2 separate regions of the Homo sapiens genome follow, and region 1 is linked to region 2. The links come from fine-mapping of genetic effects on gene expression. Tissue or cell type: whole blood. Region 2 holds a variant in brackets; the other region holds the start of a gene. All regions are shown on one strand. Distances are from middle to middle.

Region 1 (6,015 bases), 34 kb before region 2:
TGCAGCTGCACCTGGGAGAGCAGGACTCCTGCCTGCTCCATGGAGTGTGCAGCCCAGGCCATGCCTCCCTGCTGCAGCTGGGTGATGATAGCAGCAGGTTGTCTGGAGCCACGGCTGCCATCAAAAGTGATCAATGACTGGTGATTGTCATGAGTGGTACAAGGTCAAGAGATAATCAGGTCTGGCCAGGTGCGGTGGCTCACGCCTGTAATCCCAAACCTTTGGGAGGCCGAGGCGGGAAGATTGTTGGAGGCCAGGAGTTCAAGACCAGCCTGGCCAACATGGCAAAACCCTGTCTCTACTAAAAATACAAAAATTAGCTGGGTGTGGTGGCACAGGCCTGTAATCCCAGCTACTTGGGAGACTGAGGCATGAGAATCCCTTGAATCTGGGAGGTGGAGGTTGCAGTGAGCCAAGATCATGCCACTGCACTCCAGCCTGGGTGACAGAGCAAGCCTCTGTCTCAAGAAAGAAAAAAGAGATAACTAGGTCCACACGTGTTTGTGTCTTTCCACAGTGTCAGATTTTTATTCACCCTATACCCAAGGGTAAAAAAAAACAAAAGCCACAAGCTATCCCAAGGAGCCAATTTGCTTCTTCTTCTTCTTCTTCTTTTTTCTTTCATACAGAGTCTCACTCTGCCGCCCAGGCTGGAGTGCAGCTGGAGTGCAGTGGTGCGATCTCAGCTCACTGCAACCTCTGCCTTCTGGGTTCAAGTGATTCTCATGCCTCACCCTCCCAAGTAGCTGGGGTTACAGGCCTGTGCCACCACGCCCAGCTAATTTTTGTATTTTTAGTGGAGATGGGTTTTCGCCATGTTGGCCAAGCTGGTCTCGAACTCCTGACCTCAGGTGATCTGCCTGCCTCAGCCTCCCAAAATGCTGGAATTATAGGCATGGGCCACTGCACCCAGACCCAAGGAGCCAATTTTCCTTAGTACTTCCCGTTCACTCAGTAGTGAGCACATGGGCTCAAGCCACTCCACAAGTCAGTCAATATTGCAAACCATATATAATAGTATACTTAATCCACATGTAAATGTTATAAACATTCCACAACAAACAAAGTAGCATTTAACATCAAGAGAAAAAGAGATAGGAGAAAGGGTTAAGGAACCAGTTCCAGGGTAAGGAAGAAGACAAAAGGAATCCTGGTCTGGGCTTGAGGGTCTTGCAGAGTCTTTGAGGGGCAGAGCCTTGGGAGGCAGATGCAGAGTTCTTATGAACGGCAGTGGGATGGTTGTCAGTTAAGGCTGCTGGGCTGCTGTTTTGTAGTCACAGAGTGCTCTGGTGAGAAATGGTAGAGGAACAGTGTGCTTCTTTGTGTCCTTATGTGGTTGGACGCAGTCTTTATTTATTTTTTTTTTTATTTTTTGAGACAGAGTCTTGCTCTGTCGCCCAGGCTGGGGTGCAGTGGTGTGATTTTGGCTCACTGCAACCTATGCCTCCCGGGTTCAAGCGATTCTTGTGCCTCAGCCTCCTGAGTAGCTGAGATTATAGGCACGGTGCCACCACGCCCAGCTAATTTTTGTATTTTTAGTAGACACGGGGTTTCACTATATTGGCCAGGCTGGTCTCGAACTCCTGACCTCGTGATCCACCCACCTCAGCCTCCCAACGTGCTGGGATTACAGGCATGAGCCACAGCGCCTGACCTTCTATTTTTTATTAAACAAAACATCTTGCCCTTGTTGGCAAAGCACCCTATGAAATATAAAATGAAGTCTTTTTCTAAGATGGAGTTAGTTATGTCAAGGGTGCGCAGTACTGTGCCATAAGCTCTCCCCCGGCTGCCCAGAGAGAAAACCTAAGGGCCTCTTAAAGACACCATCACAGCAGTTCAGCGGGGAGCAGGCAGGAATGGTTTCGGATCTAGTGGTGGTGAGAAGTAGACAGAGATCAGAGAAAGTTATAGGAGGTGAAAGTGGGAGGACCTTGGTTACAGACTGCCGGTGAAGAGGGACAAGGACAACCCGCAGGTCTCCGCTAGTCAGGTGGAAGGAAAGGAGGGGGCAGTGCCCTTCGCAGAGGCACAGGAAGCTGGGTCTTGATCACGCTGAACTCCAGACGCTCTCTAGATGTGCACGCATGTGCGTGTGGAGTGTGTGTGTGTGTGTGTGTGAGAGAGAGAGATGTGTTGGGGTGGGGGGACTGCAGGTCAGGAAGTCCTGCAGATGTGCGTGCCTGTGTGTGTTTGCGCGCGCGCGCGCGTGTGTGTGTGTCTGTGTGTGTGCCTGGAGCTGCGCTTGCAGGTCTGAGAGTCCTCTGAGAATGGGTTGGGGGAGGCGGGTGCAGGACCGAGGCCTGGAACAGCCAACAAAGAGGCCCTGGAGGAGGGTGGGGCTGGCCGGGGACAGGAGGGGTGGCCAAGAAAGTCGCAAGAAAACTCCGGCCCCCAAGAAAAAGAGAGGGCATGGGTTGCGGAGCCGACATCACGGCCGGGGTCTTTGCTGTTTAGACGCCTGGGTTCCCGGATCCCAGACACGCGCACGGGCAGGAAGTTAGACCGGAGACAGCGAGTATAGACAGCCCTTCTGGATAGGGGCAGACGGGTGGGAGCTCCGAAGGGGTGCCGGGGCGGTGATCGGGAGGTCTCCAGCGGCCCGAACCAGGGTGAAGAAGAAGGTGGAGTCTGCGGAGGCCCCAGGCCGGGGAGGGGGCGGGTCGGGCCCAGCATCCCCCGCAGCCGGGGTCCGAGGGGGAGGGGCGGGCTGGAGGAGCGGGTGGGGGCGGGGCGGGGCGTGGCGGCGGGGGATGCGCCCCTGCGCGAGCCAGTGTCGCCTGCCCTCCTTCCGCACAGCCCGGGTTTCCGCTTCCCTCCGGGCGCGAGAAGAGGGGAGCCAGGCCGAGCCCCGGCCCTACCGCCGCCGCCGCCATGTGGCCCCCAGACCCCGACCCCGACCCGGACCCCGAGCCTGCCGGCGGCTCCCGTCCCGGCCCCGCGGTCCCCGGGCTCCGCGCCCTGCTGCCGGCGCGGGCTTTCCTCTGCTCTCTCAAAGGCCGCCTCCTGCTGGCCGAGTCGGTGAGTGCGGCGGGACCCTCGGCCGCCCCGCTAGGACTGCGCGGCTCCTTTCGGAGGAGGACGTCGGGGCGCGGGTGGGGTCCGGGGGCGGCCGCCGTGCTCCGATACCCCCTCTCCGCGCCGCCTCGGCCGACTTCTCTCGGGCGCCTGGCGAAGTTGGGTCGAGGTCCCCAAACTTTGGACGGCGGGGCGGGGCCCGAGCCCAGGCCATCCGCGGCGCTGTCCCCGCGAGTCCAGAGCTGGGGGCCGTGGGAAGTGGGTGGGGCCCGGGGATGTGGGTCCTGCTGTGTGAGCCAGGCGCCCCCGCCCTCTCTGGGCCCCGGGGACTCGGGCAACTCGGACCTCCGGGACTCCCGGGCCGCAGCGGGGTCCGCTTTCCTGCGAGCGGGTAGTGCGGGCCGGGGCCTCGACCTGCGGGGCCGAGCCGGCGGGGGGCCGTGCGGAGCGGGAGGGATCCCCCACCCCCGGGACTGGGTGAGGCGGCCCCGCGGTGACTTCATCGCCCTCCTCCCCTCCGCGGCCGGGCTCCTTCCTACTCCGCCCTCGCCCCCACCCCGGCCGGTGGGGCTTCTTTGTCCTCTGGACACCGGAGGCGCCCGCACTGTCCGCTGTGGGGTAGGGGTGGCGCTGGGCCGTTGGGGATGGGGAGGGAGAGGCCGGGCCGGAGACCGGGGGAGGCGGGAGGAGAGAGCGGCGCACGGCGGCGGCCACTTGTTGCTTAGATCCCAGGAACTTGGCGCTTCCTGCCCTTGTCCCCACTTTACAGATGAGAGCGCTCAGGCGCCTGATTTGACAGGTGGCTCAACTGAGGGGCCCAGTGAGAGCGGCCAGGAGGGTGGGGGCAGGAGGAAGGGGGATTCTGCTCCGGGACCTCTCCCTGGTCACTCAGGGCAGAGGGCAGAAGGTGGTCCTGCAGCCTCTCCCACGGTCAGCCCAGAGGCCACCTGCCCAACGCCCAAGTGAGACACCAATGCCACACTCCGAGCCCACACTCCCAGCCCCACCCTGGAGACCACTGGGAGCCACTTGAGGGGAGAAGCCTCGAATCCACCGTCCCCAGAGTGGCTTGAACCCCCCCATCCCCACCCAAGACCACCTCATAAGAGGGAGGCATATGTCCAGCAGGAGCATAGAGGCCACCCTGGGCCCAGCAGATGTCAGGAATCCAGGTCAGGGAGGATAAGGAAGGGTGAACGGTCAGCACTCAGGGTTCACAGGAGCCGCTGAGGGCACTCCTGCCTCCCTAGTCCCCTCACTCCCACCCCCAGGCCAAGCAAGTGCAGAGGCTGAGATGGACAGAAACAGAGAGAGGAAGTGGCCCCAGAAATCGCGGGATGAAAAAACAGGAATTGAGAGGGGAATCCCCAGAATTAGGCTTTGGGGTGCAGGCATAGGAGACAGGAAGGGGAGGGCCAGAGCTGGGTCAGTCCCATGGAAGGCCTTCCTGGGAGGCCCCAGCAGCCTCCCAGCCCGTCTCTATGCCTTAGTCTATCTTTCCAAAGGGGGCTCAGCTGCACCCAAGGCCATGTGCAGAGCAAATGGGGGTGCTCTGGGGACCCCCTGGGATCCCTGCAGTTCATTTGTCTGAAGCAGCCACAGTGCTTCCTGTGGGGCATCTGGGTGTCCCCATGGGGACTCCTGCACCCACTAGAAACTACTCAGCCATAGACATGTTCAAACGCAGCCACAGTGACAGAAACCAGGGACAGATGGCCTCCCCAACACCCACAGGGCCAAGTTGCTTAAGAACTCTACCTGGGCCGGGCGTGGTGGCTCATGCCTGTAATCCCAACACTTTAGGAGGCCGAGGTGGGTGGATCACCTGAGGTCAGGAATTCGAGACCAGCCTGGCCAGCATGGTGAAACCCTGTCTCTACTAAAAATAAAAAAATTAGCTGGGTTTGGTGGCGGGCGCCTGTAATCCCAGCTACTCGGGAAGGCTGAGGCAGGAGAATCACTTGAACCCCGGAGGTGGAGGTTGCAGTGAACTGAGATCGTGCCACTGCACTCCAGCCTGGGAGACGGAGCAAGACTCCATCTCTGGGGCGGAGGTAAGATAACTCTATCTGGGGGGTCAGCCAGCCCTGGGTTCAAATTCTAGTAGCCTCTGATTAGCCATGTGACAGAGTCTTCTCATCTGTCAAGTGGGGCTGTGCTCATGGGTGGATGTGAGGGTCAGAGGAGATGCCCGTGAGCCTCAGGGTACCAGGCACTGTGGAGCCCCAGGCTGGCCAACAGGTCACCTTGGCCTGCTCTGCAGCGTACCTGGGCTGCAGGACTGCCCAGGGCTCAACATCCTCCTGCATCAGCTCTTCCCACCTACAGAGTTGTGGGCAAGACCACAGTGAACATTTTGATTCTTGTAGTTCAAGTACAGCTGGCCCCACCTTTCACAGCTGGCCCTGTATGAATAAGGCAGCAGGGCCTGAGGTGTCAGTGCCAACGCACCCTCTGTTAGATGTTCCTTTCTTATCATTATGAAAATTTGCAAATACATTAAAACTCCAAAAGATTTTTTTGCTTTATCTATCTGTCCATCAAGGCATTTTATCTTTTAACACAAAATAAATTGCAGACATCAGGACATTTCAACTCTGAACACTTCAGGACGCATATCATTAAGGTTCAAGGTTTTTTCTTTTCAAGGTGAAATCTACATTCAGTGACGAGCACACGTCTTTGGTGTTGGGTGTTACTTTTTGGAAACTGGTTCCTGCCTCGCTTTGATTTCCCTCCGCAGGGCACTGAGTGGAGTGCATGTGCTTGGAAGGCTGGGGCTTTCTGACTAGGTCCTGTCAGGGAGCTGGGGTGGGGTAAGGTGAGGACTCAGGGCCATGCCCAGGACTGGGAGGCAGCATAGGTGTGAGCCTGGGCCATGCTGGGTTTTTTTTTTTTGTAGGGGCGGGTGCGGACAGGGTCTCTCTCTCTCTCACCCAGGATGGAGTGCAGTGGCCTGATCACAGCTCACTGCAGCCTCGACCTCCCCGGGCTCAG
Region 2 (7,544 bases):
TGAGGTGCCCACGGCGTTCTCATCCCACAGGCACAGCAGTGTGAGGCAGCCGACTGTGCTTACGTGGATCTCCCTGACTGACTCCCTTTGAGCTCTTGCACATGCTAATTTGTAAATAAATATCAAGAAAACCAAATGATATTAAAATCCTCTTCTCATTCAGCACAGTAAGGACACAGTCTAGGAAAGGGGGTCTAGGACTGACCAGCCCTGTGCTTCCCATCTGATTAACAAGGGTGGCCAAACAGAGCTAAGAACCCAAACCATGGGGAGAAGGGGCAGGTTTCCACTCAAGACTTTCTGATCAAACCACCAAACCCCCCCAGGTCCTCCTAGTTGCTTTGAATTTAATAATATTCCTAGGCTCTGTAAGTTACTGGCATTTTCATTCATATTTTCAATTCTTCCAGAATCAATATTTTTATAAATGGCTTTTAGGTCCAGTCTGAAAAGTATGTAAATGTCTACACTGTATTTTATTTCCCATATTCTCCAAATATCAACATGACCAGTCTTCTCAGATGATTGCAAAATTGAAATGACATCTTTAAGGTGGCCAAAATAATTGTTATGATGTTTCTCCCATTAGTTAAGATTCAGTTTATTTTGTAGTTTTACTTAACCCAGTAAAGAAATTTAAAATTTCACAGTTGAATTATAATAGAATATTTAAGGATCAAAATGAACTAGAACCAAACATGACCTGGAGAGATTCCAGCTTTTCCTTGGAGCCAACAGGCACGTGATCCTTTCATGGCCAGAGTGGCCGCTTGTACTCACTGTCAGATTCCAGTTGATCTGGGGGATCCTCATGTGCAGGTTGAGACTGAACATAATCAGCAAGACGCCAGTCACCACAAACGCACTGCAGCTCACAAACTCAAAAAAGTAGAGGCCTTCACACGGGGAGCATGCCATGATGGTCTCTATGCAGATGAATGCAATCAGGGCCAAGATCTAGGAAGAAAATTGGAAACATATATGTACGTATATGTTTAGTATACATCTGCGGACATACGTACCTGCCATGCTTATATAACACTGAACAACAACATACTGCCACTGAGTTTTCCTCTGGGACAGCAGTGTAACTGTCGGAAATCAGACCTGCTTCAATTCTTACCTAAAGAATAGGTGCAGGGGTCTTAATGGAAGGATCAAATTACTAATGTAAACAGTGAAGGCCCCACCACATACACTGAAATCAATCTGGTGTGATGTGGCCCCCGGGTGTAAACTGCTGGCCCTTGGGAGGAAGCAGAAACATCTCTACAATGTTTCTAGGTCTTCTCCTGCCACCAATAAGTAAGTGGGTGTTGCCTATGTGTGTTTCTAATTCATGGTCTCTACCACAATTATCCCAAACACTGGGAGAGCAGAATTCTGATGGTGTCTGACTTGTGCCATCTGCAGTTACCTTGGTGGCTCCTGCTAAAGTCACACAGGTTAACTGGGACTCCTGACGGCTTTAAAACAATGATTGGTATAATCTCCTTTTCCCCCAATTAGGTGGGAACAAGAGGCGCACCTAATTAATTCATATGGTTTTAAAAAATATATTTTTTGAACTTGATCACAACAAGATGGCAGCTTATTAAAAAACATTAAGAAATCTACCAATAATAGAATAAATTTCTAGGCTGGGCACGGGGGCTCATGCCTGTAATCCCAGTACTTTGGGAGGCCAAGGTTGGCAGATCACCGGAGGTCTGGAGTTCAAGACCAGCCTGACCAACATGGAGAAACCCCCTCTCTACTAAAAATACAAAATCAGCCGGGTGTGGTGGCGCATGCTTGTAATCCCAGCTACTCAGGAGGCTGAGGCAGGAGAATCGCATGAACCTGGGAGGTAGAGGTTGCAGTAAGCTGAGATCGCGCCATTGCACTCTAGCCTGGGCAACAAGAACGAAATTCCATCTCAAAAAAAAAGAATAAATTTTTTTCTGAAGGACCAAAGTACCATTCTGGCAATATGTCCTAAGAGTTCATAGATCATAAAATCAAATAGATATTGATAGAAATTACCAAGTGAACTTTTAAAGGGGGATTTCAGGAGAAGGAGGAGGCCCAAAGGCGGAGTTAATGGCCCTGTGATCAAAGAAAGGTTTCGAGCACCTAAAGCCAGATCAGTCTCAGGCTCCCGCTCCGCCCAGTTCAGTGGCATCTGAAGCCTATGCCGCTGCTTCCAGGCTGGCCTCCACCTCAAAAGTCAAGGAAGCAGAGGCAGGCAGCTCTGTGGTCCTCTAGAGACTTGTCCTTTAGAGCTTGTGGGAAATGCAGAATCTCTGCTTCCTCCCCTTGAACTACAGAATCAGAATCTGCTTTCTGATGAGATCTTCAGATGATTAAAATGCCAGCAGCATCCAAGGCACGGGCTGTTCTGGGGCCTTTCTCCACCTGCTGAAAGTCCTACTCATGCTTTCCAATGCTCCACTTGATGATGCCGCCACCTCCTCCCCATGTCTTCCCTGACTGCTTCTCCCTGCCAGACATCAGCTTATCCCACCCTCTCCCAGGAAAGCTGGTTCATCTGTGATTGCATTCTATCCTTACCATCTTGCAGCCTCTGCCTCCGGAGCTTTTAGGGGGCAGGGTAGTCCATCCCCATCTACCCCCAAGGCACCAAGCACAGTAACTTTCACATAGCTGGCAGATGGGGGCTGAATGAGCCATTAGAAAACCCACATCTACAATTCCTGGTTGCCTGGTCAGTGTCTTCAGGCGAATGGAAGAGTGGTTCTGCCTTTCCCATTGTCAATACTTCTACACAGAACCTCTTTCCTAACAATATGTGGTCTTTTCTAAGTCAACACATTAAAGACATGGGTCTTCTTGGTCAAAGGATACAAAATTTCAGTTAGACAGGAAGAATAAGTTCAAGAGATCTATTGTACAACATGGTGACTTAGTCAACAACAATGTATTGCATTGTATTGTTGAGAGGAGATTTTAGGCTGGGTGTGGTGGCTCATGCCTGTAATCCCAGCACTTTGGGAGGCTGAGGCAGGTGGATCACCTGAGGTCAGGAGTTCGAGACCAGCCTGATTAACACGGTGAAACCCCGTCTCTACTAAAAATACAAAAATTAGATGGACATGGTGGTGGGCGCCTGTAATCCTAGCTACTTGGGAGGCTGAGGCAGGAGAATCACTTGAAACCCGGGAGGCGGAGGTTGCAGTGAGCTGAGATCGTGCCACTGCACTCTAGCCTGGGCGACAGAGTGAGACTCCATCTCAAAAAAAACAAAAACAAAAGCAAACAAACAAACAGAGTAGATTTTAAATGTTCTCACCACAAAAAAAAAAAACAAAGGTAAGTATGTGAGATAATGCACGTTACCTCACTGGATTGAGCCATTCCACATTGTATACACATTTAGAAACATCATGCTGTACACAGTAAATATAGAGATTTTTACTTGTCAATAACACAAAAGATATGGGTCTTTAAATATACACACTGTGCTTCTCCTAATAGCTCTTCTTATAATTCTCTACTGCACCATAGACTTTAATTCTCCATCTGAATTACATGCCTAACTTGCAATCAATTCACAAAAGAAATAGTTCACATAAGGGAAACTCCTAAACTTTCCCCTTTTTTTCACCCCAGTAATCAGATCTAGTAATCTTGGGCAAGAAATAACACACTGTAC[T/C]GATGAGTTACAAATGTTTCTGGTATGCTAACTTCAACCATATTTGTGTGGGAAGGTAACACCTACATTCTTAAATATTAACATAAAAATGGCTTCACGGATATGCAAATCTAATAGACCATTTGTTGTGGCAGTGAACAAAACAGACAAAAACTCCTGCTCTTAGCTCACAGTCTAATAAAGGAGTTGTTTTTTTTTAAATTACATTTAAAAAGAGTGAGTTAGTGATAAGAACGAAGGAGAAAAATGGAAGCAGGGAAGGTGAACAAAGCATAGCTGGGGCAAAGGTGTTCGAAAGTTTAGACACAGAGACCAGGAAGAGTGGCTCATGCCTGTAATCCCTTTGGGAGTACAGCACTTCAGGAGGTTGAGGCGGGTGGATTGCTTGAGGCCAGGAGTTCCATACCAGCCTGGCCAACATGGCGAAATCCTGTCTCTACTAAAAATACAAAAAGTAGCTGGGCATGGTAGCACATGCCTGTAATCCCAGCACATCAAAAGGCTGAGGTGGGTGGATCGCTTGAGGCCAGGAATTCCAGACCAGCATGGCCAACATGACAAAACTTTGTCTCTACTAAAAATACAAAAATTAGCCAGATGTGGTGCTGCACACCTGTAATCCCAGCTACCAGGGAGGCTAATGCATGAGAATCCCTTGAACCTGGGAGGCGGAAGTTGCAGTGAGTGGAGACTGTGCCACTGCACTCCTGCTTGGGTGACAGAGTGAGACTCTAAAAAAATTTTAACATAAAATAAAGTTTAGGGCAGGCGCAGTGGCTCACAGCTGTAATCCCAGCACTATGGGAGGCCGAGGCGGGTGGATCACATGAGGTCAGGAGTTCGAGATCAGCCTGGCCAACATGGTGAAACCACTAACTGGGCATGGTGGCGCACGCCTGTAATCCCAGCTACTCCGGAGGCTGAAACAAGAGAACTGCTTGAGCCTGGGGGCGGAGGTTGCAGTGAGCTGAGATCGCGCCACTACACTGCACTCCAGCCTGGGTGATAGAGTGAGACTCTGTCTCAAAAAAAATAATAAAAATAAATAAAGTTTAGACAGAGTGTCCCTGGAGGGTGCTATTTGAGACAGAGTTGCCGAACATATAAGGGACAGCTGTCTGGAGAAAGAGCACTGGAGGCAGAGTGGGGAGCAAGGTGAGATCCCTGGGAAGGGGGTCAGGTGGCCCCTAGGGAGAATCACAGGAGGGAGGTCAGACCCAAAGAGCGCTTGGGTGCAGTGAGGTATGCGGCTCTCACTCTGAGTGTGATGGAAGCACCAGAGAGTGGCAGGATCTCCTTTGGGTCTTAAAAGGGCCACCAGCTACTTTGCGGAGAACAGACTACAGTGAGGACAAGGGCAGAAGCCAGGAGGAGAGTGACAAGACCCTTGCAACAATGAATAGGGCTGACCTATTACCTTGCAGAAATGACTTCACAGGTGTGTGACTGCACAGGCTCAGTCAGAAAAGTTAGCATGGTTCCTGCCTTGCTCTCTCTTAGACCACTCATGATGGGGAAAAACCAGCTGCCATGTCTTGAGGGTACTCAAGCAGCCCTATGGAGAGGTATAGGTGCCAAGAACTAAAGCCTCCTGCCAACAGCCATGTTGAACAAGCCGTCTTAGACATAGGTCCTCCAGCCCCAGGCAAGCCTTCAGATGACATAGCCCTAGCCAAAAGCTTGACTGCAACCTCCTGAGAGAACCAGAGCAAAGCCACCCCCCAAATTCCTGACACACAGAAATGAAAAGAAAAGAAAGATCTGATTCTTGTTTGTTTGCTTTTTTAAGACAGGGTCTTCCTCTGTCACCCAGGGGGTGCAGTGATGCAATCATAGCTCACTGCAACCTTGAACTCCTAGACTCAAGTGACCCTCCTACCTCAAACTTTCGAGTAGCTGGAACTACAGGGGCACACCACCATGCCCAGATAATTCTTTATTTTGTAGAGACAGGGTCTCACACAGGCTGGTCTCAAACTCCTGGCCTCAAGAGATCCTCCCGCCTCAGCCTCCCAAAGCACTGGGATTACTGGTCTCAGCCACTGTGGCCCGCCTAAGATGTCTTGTTTTAAGTCACAAAGTTTTAAGGTAATTAGTTATGCAGCAATAAATAATATATCAGGGAGGGAAAACTCTTGTTGTTATAAAACATTAATATTCTACTCATTACTCATTGATTACAGGTACATACAAATCAAACACCTTATAGGCACTTCTTGTTTTTTATCATTTAGTTCCCCAGTACAACCTTATGAGGTAGATATTAGCCCCATTTTACAGATAAGGAAATTAAGGTTCTGTGACATATAGATAGCAAGAAGCGGTGCCAGGATGTAATAGCCAAGATTTGATTCTCAGTCTCTCCAGTTCTTACTGCCCCACTATGTTATTTCCCTATTAGCTTCTCACCCATAAAATTATACCTGCCTCCTTTCCAAATCTCAAATGGTCACTGTGTTCAAAATCCAAACAAAAATATATGTAAAAGGGCTCTACAAATGACAAAATGCTATATACAAAATAAGAAAATAACATGTTATAACCTACACCTATTTAAACCATAAAATACCTATTATATATCTTATTTTCCAGCCCACTTTTTCTGCTAAATAGTGTTTCCACAGGTATGTCCACATATAGATGTTACTTTTAATAATTACATGTATTCATATGTAATTACATAGACAGATACATAAATACACACATATACACCTCTATACACAACCACAATTTAATTGATCCCCTATTGATAGGCATTTAGATGGTTTCTAATACTCTGCTGTTACAAGCAAAACATTTTTTTGTCTGACATTGGACACAGCAAAATGTCAACATTTTCTCTAGCACAGTGAAATCTAATCACTGCTGAAATAAAAACTACCTATTGACCAAGAAGGGCTCAGATAAAGTGATACTAGAAGCCAACAACTTCAAGGGAACCAAAGAGTCAAAAATAGTTCAACTTATAACAACCTTGAAGTGAGCAAATGTCACGTGAACAAATTATACAGAGATGTCCAAAAAGATGTATATAAGAAAAAACTTTTTTGTTTACTAATCATGCGATTATGGATGCCCTTGGAGAGAGTCCTTTCCAGGTGGCAACTACAAACTGACCAGAGTAAATATTTTAATATTTGATAAGTAAACTGGGCCAGGTACAGTGGCTCACACCTGTAATCCCAGCACTTTGGGAGGCCAAGGGAGTTGGATCACTTGAGGCCAGGAATTCCAGACCAGCCTGACCAACACAGTGAAACCCCTGTCTCTACTAAAAATACAAAAAATTAGCTGGGTGTGGTGGCACATGCCTGTAATCCCAGCTAGGCAGGAGGCTGAGGCATGAAAATCACTTGAACCCTGGAGGTAGAGTTTGCAATGAGCCGAGATCGCGCCACTGCACTCCAGCCTGGGTGACGAAGGGAGACTTCATCACCAAAACAAACAAACGAACAAACAAAACCAGAATTGATATTAACAGGTTGTCAGATTTCCACAACTGTGGCAAATTATGATTGGCAGCATCTAAAAGCAGGAAGAGAAGGAAAGAGAGAGGACTGGCTGATGAAGTTACCATAATAGTCATCCTTCCACTCTAACTTTCTGTCACAGCTTCTTGTGCCAGGCAATAATGAAATAGCAATTTTTGGTTTTGTTTCGTTTGTTGCCAGAGTCTCTGTCGCCCAGGCTGGAATGCAGTGGTGAGATCTTGGCAAGTGCAACCTCTGCTTCCCGGGTTCAAGTGATTGTCCTGCTTCAGCCTCCTGAGTAGCTGGGATTACAGGCACCTGCCACCAAGGCCGGCTAATTTTTGTACTTTTAGTAGAGACAGGGTTTCGTCATGTTGGTCAGGCTGGTCTCAAACTCCTGACCTCAAGTGATCCACCCA

The links. PIP is the estimated chance that this variant, and not a neighbour inherited with it, causes the effect.
Region 1: it holds the start of CMTM3, and the variant in region 2 is fine-mapped to the expression of CMTM3 in whole blood (TOPMed, PIP above 0.99).

What each region holds. Positions count from the first base shown.
Region 1 is chr16:66,601,932-66,607,946 of GRCh38, forward strand. CMTM3 (CKLF like MARVEL transmembrane domain containing 3) reads left to right here and starts at 2,773. Exons shown (of 5, transcript NM_181553.4): 1 at 2,773-3,021. The coding sequence starts at 2,875. It also overlaps a transcript of CMTM4 not described here. RefSeq lists silencers at 2,658-3,497, 3,558-3,777.
Region 2 is chr16:66,635,625-66,643,168 of GRCh38, forward strand. It overlaps CMTM4 (CKLF like MARVEL transmembrane domain containing 4), which reads right to left. Exons shown (of 4, transcript NM_181521.3): 2 at 781-957. Among named protein-coding and RNA genes, the nearest start is that of CMTM3, 35 kb to the left of the region's middle. The variant T/C (reference allele first, on the strand shown) is at 3,656.